2 linked regions of the Homo sapiens genome follow. The protein of the gene in region 2 interacts with the protein of the main gene of each other region in a biochemical or structural test. Each region holds a gene or a part of one and is shown on either strand. Other genes may lie near its edges.

Region 1 (5,168 bases), on a different chromosome or scaffold from region 2:
GACTGCCTTCCACCATCATGGGCTACAACATCTTGGAATTACAGACAGGAAAACATTTGTGATCTTGAGCCTAGCTAGCAGGGGTACAGTTTGGCTTCTACCTGTCAACATGTCTGCTTACAGAGATATAATTTTTAAGAGTTTTGAAATAGTACATCTAAAGACACATCTTATTTTAGTAAATCATTTCTCTTGAGGGGCACTGAGATTAGTCTTGCTTTTCCACTATGTGTAATTATTGCATATGCCTCCGTGAGTATTTCCACAGGCCAGATTTGGAGGAGCAGAATTACCAGATCAAAGCTATTGCCAAATTTCCTTTCAAGTAGCTTGGATCAATTTATTCTCTCACCAGCAATGTTTGAGATTGTTTTCATTGACATTCCTTAGCACATTATTTTTTTTTAATTTTCCAATCAAATGAGCTAATTTATGTTTGTCTCAAATTAGAGAGTCTTGTTAAAATCATATGTAGGTCATGTGTTATTTTTTAATGCCTGCAAAACTCAAAATCCTGTATTTCATCTCTTTACCTCTATATTATATTACCCTATAATATAAATTCTAAATCCCATAATTCCATTGTAAACTTTTTAAGACTTTCTTGGTGTGGGGGACTTGCAGGTAAATTGCTGAAAAGTGATCACTGAAAAACTTGAATATTGTTTTGTTCATGATTTAATTATGATAATGTAACCAAATCTGTATTACATGTTCCAGTTTTTTTTCAGTGAATGATGCTAGACCTTTACCTAAACAAAAAGCTTCTTTAGGAAGGACCTCCCTGTATAAAATAGCATCTGCAGTTTCCTTACTCTTATCTTTAAAAATACCTGTTCCTTAGAGCTGGAAATAATCACTTAATCACATACCTTAGATTATATCCCTATTATTTCAGCTTGTATTGAATTTATTGATGAATGCTCTAAAATATTGCTCATTAATATTTCAATTTCTGTTACAAATCATATAATTTGGGATTATCTATTCTTGTATCAAATATGAAGTGATTCTTAACAAATTAATTTCTGAAAGTATAACTTTATGGCTAAGATAATACAATCATAAATCAAAAGCCCTCTCTTCTTCATATTAATATTACCAAGTAAATAAATAATTTTTTGTTTGGTTCTGCTTAGATTCTTATGACCAAAGTTAATGGCTACTTCCAAGGACGATCTGATGTGTGAATTTTCTTAGTTCAGAAAATGTAAACTTTGGTGCAGAAATATTAGTAAATATATTTTATCATAGTTTGGATTTTTCTTTATACTCCTTCTTGATATAAATTGAAAAATTAAACCTTTTGGATCATTTTTTGAATCACTTTCAATGTATTTTGATGCAAAATGAGAGGACTAAAAAAATAAGAAACCTATCATAATAGTATTGTACTGATATAAATTTCTTTGGTGTTATAATTGTTAATCATTGTTAATCATGTTAATTATGCCAATTTCATTAACATTTACTTAATTGTAGGCATGTCAACTACAAATGCAATGCAAGATTCTTGATTGGATCCTGGATTTAAAACATAAAAAGATTCTAAAGGACATGTGGATAATTAGGAAAATTTGAATGTGTATCACATCTTAGATAATAGTATTGTGTTGATGTTATGTTTCCGTGGTGTTGTAATGTGTTATAGAAGACTGCCTTTATTTTTAGGAGATACATGCTCAAGAATTTAGGGGTGACATGTGTCCTAAAGTCAGCAACATACTTTCAAACCATTCAGGGAAAAAACTGTGCATATGTGCATGCGTGTGTGTGAATATATATATACACATATAGAGAGAGAGAAAAGGACAGGCAGAGACAGAGAAAGACAAAGCGAGAGAGAAAGTAAATGTGGCAAAAAGATACCACTGATTAATACACATGATGAAAATATGGGTGTTCGTTGTACTATTCTTTCAATTTTTATATAGATTTGAAACATTTCTAAATAAAAATTGGGAGGGGGAAAAAACCATATTTAGTTAATGAAGGCATATTTACATTGTATAATGTTTATTAAGAGCCTAGAGGGACAATATCTTATATATCTAAAATAATCACTACATATGAGATGAGAAATGTCTCAGTGACTTGATATAAATACTTCAAACATCATTTTGCTCTGAGATAATAGAATTAGTGTACTACCTTTGAATATCTCCAAAATTCCACTTATGATATGGATGTTTGACACAGACTTCAAATACTCTTCAATCCTCCAGAAGCTTCTCAAGCTCAGAAACAATCTTCTTCTCACACTGACCTATGCAAGAAATGTTATAAAATATCAATATAAATATTCTGTCCAAACCAGGTCTATATTTAAGCACAGATTCATATGCGCAAGACAAAGAATGTTTGAGCGAGTCTAAAGATAATTCAAACAAAACTCCACTCGTACATGCGCTATCTTTAATACCAAAAGGGAAGCTTTCCCCAAATCACCCAGATGAAAGTCGAAAAGCATCCTCACTATAGATCGCATTCATTTTGAATACATCCTGCCACACAGAAAAACACTATCACAAGCTTGCTGAACTGAATAATTGAGAGTCAAATCCAATTGGAAAGGACTGTGATTGTTTTCGTCTCTAAAACTGCATCACCGTAACTGAATTCAAGAGCTGTGTTGTCCCTGCAAAACCCTGCTTAGGTTTTTAGGCCTTCTTTTAAAAATGCAGAAGCTAAACCAGTGTGGCAATTAGTGAAAGAGGACTGCAAAAATAACACAATAAATATTTGCTCAGATCAGTCAAAAATTGTAGGTAAAAATATAAGTGTTTTAGAAATGCTTAGAATGTGGACACGAGGAGGTAAGGAAAGGAAGTATTGGGCTTAATTTCTCTTTATTTTTCAACTCCACTGAATGCTTGTTTAAACTCCCACTTGTCTCTGATATGGTAAGCTAGAAAAGCATTTTAGATGTCATAAGAATGGATCAGCGCTCTCGTGATAAAGGGCTAAGAAAGCGTGAGAAGACAGATGACAAAAAATAATAGCGGAGTTCTAGGGTCCTTTGCTTTCTTTTTCTTACCTTCACTAACCAATCTGCTCATCTGATCCGGCAGAAACACAGCAACTGACCAAACAGAGAGATGAACAAGCCAGCCAATGCTCTTTCCAGAAATTTTCACAAGCCTTTCACTGATGAGACCAGTAGACTGAGCTGCTCAGTGCAAAGCCATTCTTTTTATAATTGGTCCCATGGAAAAAGAGTTGTTTTTGTTCAAGTCCGATTTGTGCTAAAGAGGCAGTGGGAAGTCCCGGGAGGTGGGGAGGCAGTAACTGACAAAGCCACATCAAGCCACAGAATGGTGTTTCTTCCCCTTTTTCGAAAAATGAAACCTATCTACGAAACTGTCTCTTATTAAAATAGTTTATGGTTACACATTTTGTAAGAACCCTAGCAACAGAATTAAATTTCCTTTCTAGAAAAGTACATTATCTGGGATCCTTCACCCAAAAGAAAGCCAAAGTCACATATGACTTTAGGAAATTCTGTTTCGTTACTAATCTATAATTTTTAAGAAGTATTATTTCTCAATGGTACTTATAATTTTTAAAAATGTAAATGAAAAAAATTTTCTCGGCCGGGCGCAGTGGCTCACGCCTGTAATCCCAGCACTTTGGGAGGCCGAGGCAGGTGGATCAGGAGGTCAGGAAATCGAGACCATCCTGGCAAACACGGCGAAACCTCGTCTCTCCTAAAAATACAAAAAATTAGCCGGGCGCGGTGGCGGGCGCCTGTGGTCCCAGCTACTCGGGAGGCTGAGGCAGGAGAATGGCGTGAACCCGGGAAGTGGAGCTTGCAGTGAGCCGAGATCGCGCCACTGCACTCCAGCCTGGGCGACAGGGCGAGACTCCGTCTCAAAAGAAAAAAAAAAGAAAAAAGTTTTCCCTCTCCAAATACCGAAGGTCAAAACAATAATACATGGTGTGGGCAAAGTTGTGAAGAAACAAGCACTCTCAAACACTACTGATGAGATTGTAAACATATTTAGAGGGCAATTTCCCAGTATCTCTCAAATACAAATATTCATACCCTTTGACCCAACAATTGTATTTTTTATAAATTTGTCCAAGCTATATGTTTACACTTGTACACAAAGACTTATGTGAAAAGATATTTGTTGCAGCATTGCTTGAGAAAATAAATGACTAGAAAAAATTATATCCATAAATAAGATATTGGCCAAGTAAATGAGAACGTATGCATACTTAAAATCCTATGTAGGTTGTGTGCGGTGGCTCACGCCTGTAATCCTAGCACTTTGGGAGGCCGAGGCAGGTGGATCACTTGAGGTCAGAAGTTTGAGACCAGCCTGGCCAACATGGTGAAACCTTGTCTCTACTAAAAATACAAAACTTAGCCACGCGTGGTGGTGGGCACCTGTAATCCCAGCTACTCGGAGGCTGAGGCATGAGAATCCCTTGAACCCGAGAGGTGGAGGTCACAGTGAGCTGAGATTGTGCCACTGCACTCCAGCCAGGGTGACAGAGCGAGACTCCATCTCAAAAAAAAAAAAAAAGAAAAAAAAAGATCTCTAACATATATTGTTTAGCAAGAACTCATTTTCCAGTTTGTATTTTTAAGGAATATATGTATATACATGCTTATGTAATAGAATATTTCTTTTTAAAATTTTGTATTTTAATTTTTGTAGGTATACAGTAGGTGTATATATTTATGGGGTACATAAGATGTTTCGATACATGCATATGATGCATAATAATTACATCATGAAAAATGGGGTATCCATCCCCTCAAACATTTATCTTTTGTGTTACAAAAAATCTAATTATACTATTTTAGTTATACTAAAATGTAAAATTAAGTTATTATTCACTACAGTATCCCTGTTGTGCTATTAAATACTTTGTCTTATTCATTCTTTCTAACTAGTTTTTGCACCCATTAACCATCCCTACCTGCCCCACCAGCCCTCCACTACCCTTCCCAGCCTCTGGTAACCATGCTTCTACTCTCTATGTGCATGAGTTCAATTGTTTTGATTTTTAGATATCACAAATAAGTGAGAACATGTGATGTTTGACTTTCTGTTTCTGGCTTATTTCACTTAACATAATGACCTCTGGTTCCATCCATGTCGTTGCAAATGACAGGATCTTATTCTTTTTTGTGGCCGAATAGTACTCTATTGTGT
Region 2 (4,565 bases):
TGAATGTTGCCTGTATAGGCAGTACTCCTGGTCCTATGAGACAGTTAGAGCTGGAGCCCTGAAGAAGGATAATTTGAAGCACCAGATATCAGCATGCAACTTTTGGTGTTATCTATATGGCACCTTCAAGCATTTCTTGAAGAATTTTTCATATACTATTATGGAAAATATTTATTCTGAGCAGGAACCCAACCTTTTAGAGATTTTTGAATAGTTGCTATGTAGGATATTTCTGGCATCGGGTTTAATAATACCTCATTCTACTCAAGTAAACTGTATTTTCTTCACAAGATTTCTGTGGATGTTAAATTCTCATTTGAGTCTGAATTATGCTCTTGTGGCTGCTGATGTTAAGCGGTACATTAATTAAACAATTTCTCTTAATTTACTGGGTCATTCAAATTCATAGACATTTCATTTGATTTGAACAATAACTTGTTCACTAGTTTATTGTTATGATTTCCTGCTCAAGATTCTCCAAGGGATTTTTCTTTTTCTGGTTAAATCAACAAGTGATGGATAAGCTGTGAATTTTATCATTTAAATGCAATCTTGCTGTGTATACATAATGGATACTTTTGGTTTGGTTTCTTTTGCTGAACACAATGTCCATGTTGCCCTGTTTATCAGTAGTTTGTTCCTTTTTTATTGCTATGTAGTATTCCATTGTATGAATAGACCATAATTTGTTTCTCTATTCTTCTGTAGAATAGCTTGTTTCCAGCTTTTGATTAGAATGAATAGGGCTGCTCTGTACATTTTTACTCATGCTGTTTGGTGGAATTATCTTCTATATCTTTTAATATCTTTAATCAGGTTTGTTTTAATCACACAAAATTGCCAGCTGAATTTATCTTACCTTGCTTTCCATCCCATATTTATCTTTTTCTGAGTTGGTAATCACTTATAATTCATTTAACTTTGAAAGCTTTGCTTCATGACCCAAGTAGTTTTGGGCCATGAACACAGTTGTGACAAAGTAATAAGAAATATTTGGTGTGTAATTGCTGGAGGGCAATTAGAGGTGGTTTGTGCCCCTTTGTCTGTATAGAATTCTGATGGAATGTCTTCTTCTTCAGAGCTGATATTTGACCCCCTCTCAGACAGCCTTTGACAGAAGGTAGCCACAGTTTCCAACTCCAGTGCCCCCCTGCTCACATTCCTAATCTTTGGAGCTCCTCCCTAGTGTCACCTGCAGAACTGTCACCACCGGCCATCCAGTTGGCTCTCCAGTCCTGCCAGGCTACCTTCAAAGCCTAACAAAGGGAAGAGCACTTGCTTCATTTGTTATAATGGTTACTAACTATATAATGGATCTATATCGTGGTATACATGTGAACATACTTTAAAAATGTTATATGCAGTTAATTACAGTTAATAGTGGGAGTTGTTTTTCTTTAGGAAATTTATATGCTATAATTTAGGAACTCTTCTCAGTGACTAAGATTTTCCTTCTGAAGTATCTGTCATGGGTGCTATTTAAAGATATCTGAATGACAACATCATAAAAGAACAGTGGTCTCCTCTTTCATCAAGGGATACTTCCAAGACCCCCAGTGGATACCTGAAACTATGGATAGTACTGAACCCTACGTATACTGTGTTTTTCCTCTACATTCATGCCTCTGATAAAGTTTAATTTATATATTAGGCACAATAAGATATTGAAAACAATAATCAGAGAAGAGACAATAATAACAATATGGCAACATCACTACTCGTGTACTTCAGGACTATTATTAAGTAAAATAAGGGTGACTTGAATGTAAGCACTGTGATACTGCAATAGTTGATCTGATGACTGAGGTGGCTACTAAGTGACTAACAAGGCAGGGAGTAGACACAGTGTGGAGATGCTGGACGGGGATGGGTTACGTCAGGGGTTATGGATTAGGATGGTGCAAGATTTCGTTATAATACTCAAAACAGCATGCAACTTAAAACTTACGAATTGTCTGTTTCTGCAATTTTTTATTTAATATTTTTGGACAGTGGTTGACTGTGGGTAACTGATACCGTGGAAGGTAAAAGTGTGGATAAGTGGGGACCACAGTATTAGTACATAGCTTTTCTCTTATTATATCACTTGATCGAAATCGTGGTTAATTGGTATAATTTTTGAATTAAAATATTTTCATATTCTATTGGATCATATTATGAGATGTTTAAGATATAGTTTAATAACACATCCCCCTCCTCTTTCAACCATGGAAAAAAGTTACCAAGTATTTACATATAATTCATTTAGTAAATTTCCTCTTTTTTTAAGAAAAGTCTTTTCCTTGTGTTTAAAATGTAAAAATTTTCCTATTTCTTTCTTTCTGTCCTCAAATCCACTGTGGGTGATATCGTTTTTGCTGACACACAGCTTTATCAGGTATGACTCCTAAGTGTCGTGTTGGACTCCACGGATGTATTGTTGAATTTTTCAAAGGAAGAACTTTTCACACTGCCTCTTCTACATTCCCTTGATCAGTATTTAGGAGTATTCTATGATCATTGCTGGGCTTTAAGGTCTAGAGTGGTCTTTGTATTCAAAACAAGTTTGCCACACTTATTACACCTATATTTCAGAAATAATTGTGAGTGTTTTCTTCAAATATATTATTGTTGTGTGTCTCTGGCTTTCTGTATTTTTAATCTATGCATAATTCTCTATGTTTTCCTCTTTTATATGTATAAGTGTTTGTATACACATCTGTGTTATTCTTAACATATATGTTTTTAAAAACAGATATATGTTCTTAACCAGAACTTTCTTTCCTAACCATGATACATATTCCTAACCAGGCTTTTTTCAAACTGTGTTCATGAAATAATATTAATCTGAGATGCTAAGCAAAGTGGCACAAAAATTTTTATCAATAAGTTTATTTTGTTTCTCCCTGAGCAGTTCACAATGCACATTAGCATATTAAAGGCTCTGGTTCCGTGCAGTAAAGAAATTGTTTATCTTTGTTTATCTCAGCATCTTCAAGAAATATTTGAGTTCGAAACACTTCATAATACACAGGGGTGTTCTAAGCCTGCTGATTTGGGAAATGCTGTAAAAAACCGAGTAAGATTTTCTTTGTAGTGTTTTAAGAGATCAAATAAAATTGACTACAAGTGATTAAATTTTCAAGAGGTTAAAGCATTTAGCTGAATTGTATTTTGAGAGGGTATTTTCTTATAGAAATTACATTTTGAAATACAGCATTGGTTTTTTCCCCCATAGTATTATCTTTTTCAATACTTTTGATGGCCTTTAAAAGGCATTTGTAAAACTAAAAATTCTGCCTTTTTGTGGAAAGAGGGTTTTTTTATTTTGTTACTGTCATTCCTTGTTTCTCTTCTATAAGAATTTGCCTTTATCTTTAAAAAACATGCTTACTGTTTCAGAGAGTGTGACGCAGGAAAGGAGGCCTCCCAAACTTGCCTTTATGTCAAGAGGTGTTGGGGACAAAGGTTCATCCAGTCATAATAAACCAAAGGCTACAGGTATGGATTAATAGCATATAACCTTTAGTAATTTGCATAATGCCTAACTTGCCATAGCATTAAAAAAGATTATAAGCTATTACTTCTGAACATGTATGTAGACTTTTTTTCTTTCAAACATTTTTAGTAGTGAAACTAAAGTTTGTATATAAATACTGTTGCTTAAGCCAAGTGTTCCCAGCCTTTTTTACCTCAGGAAGAGTTCCCCATAGGGTCTTGTGTGTTTTGCTGGTCTATAATCAAATGGTTTTTGGAACTCCTTACTTGGAATATTTGTATGTATAGTTTAGGATTGCAACTGTGTAAAATAATCCTATATGGATAATGTTATATAGGATAAAGTATACTAGAGGTTAATTAAATGGATTTTGCTAACTAGATTTGGTACAAATTAAATCCCAAACTGCTAAGCAAAAATTTCTTCTCTTTCCCAGAAGCTTCCTCACAATATGTGTGGAGCTTACAGCTCTTTTTTTTGTTAGCTTCCACATACTTCATAGATTTATAGAATAGTAGTTATACAAGCCAAAGAGCTCATTAAAAAGGCTCTGAGAATTTTTGTTAACTCAGATGCGAGTTAGGAAAAGAATATTTTTTCCTCAATTATTACAATTTTGGCTCATTTAAAAGGAAATTGTACTTTAAGAATTATTTTATGTGACATTGGGGCCTGGGAGACTTAGGATTAATTGCAGGATATATAGGTAACAGTCTTTTTTATGTTAACCTATAGATCTATATAGGATAGCTCAAACTTGCTACTCTCACTTAAATAGAAACAGACTAAAGATTTTCTTAAGCTATGGCATGTTAATTGTATTGTAGTAGATCTTAAAGTTATAAAATGTACAGCTACCTGCTTTAATTTGAAAAGGGAAATCAGCTTTTTTGTGGGTTCTGGAGAGCCCACTGCCCTCCACTGTGTGTGGTATGTCCTTGAATTAATACTGAGGCAGGGTAATGTCATGAAATGGCTGTGGCATAGCTACACTCGCCCTCTCACGTATAATAAATCCAATCTGTAAGAAATAATAGTGCTTGATTTTTTCAAAGACACAAGGAATTTGATGACCAAAAATTCCAAA

What was found.
Region 1: the proteins of CYLD (region 2) and TASL interact in a test that uses a peptide from one of them, tested with the Homo sapiens proteins (one large-scale study listed by IntAct).

What each region holds. Positions count from the first base shown.
Region 1 is NC_000023.11:30,574,601-30,579,768, forward strand, and holds the start of TASL (TLR adapter interacting with SLC15A4 on the lysosome), read right to left. Parts: upstream 3,167-5,168; 5' UTR 3,038-3,166; intron 2,267-3,037; 5' UTR 2,152-2,266; intron 1-2,151. UniProt on the Homo sapiens protein: Innate immune adapter that mediates the recruitment and activation of IRF5 downstream of endolysosomal toll-like receptors TLR7, TLR8 and TLR9.
Region 2 is NC_000016.10:50,772,798-50,777,362, forward strand, and holds part of CYLD (ubiquitin carboxyl-terminal hydrolase CYLD), read left to right. Parts: intron 1-2,368; coding exon 2,369-2,377; intron 2,378-3,381; coding exon 3,382-3,480; intron 3,481-4,565. UniProt on the Homo sapiens protein: Deubiquitinase that specifically cleaves 'Lys-63'- and linear 'Met-1'-linked polyubiquitin chains and is involved in NF-kappa-B activation and TNF-alpha-induced necroptosis.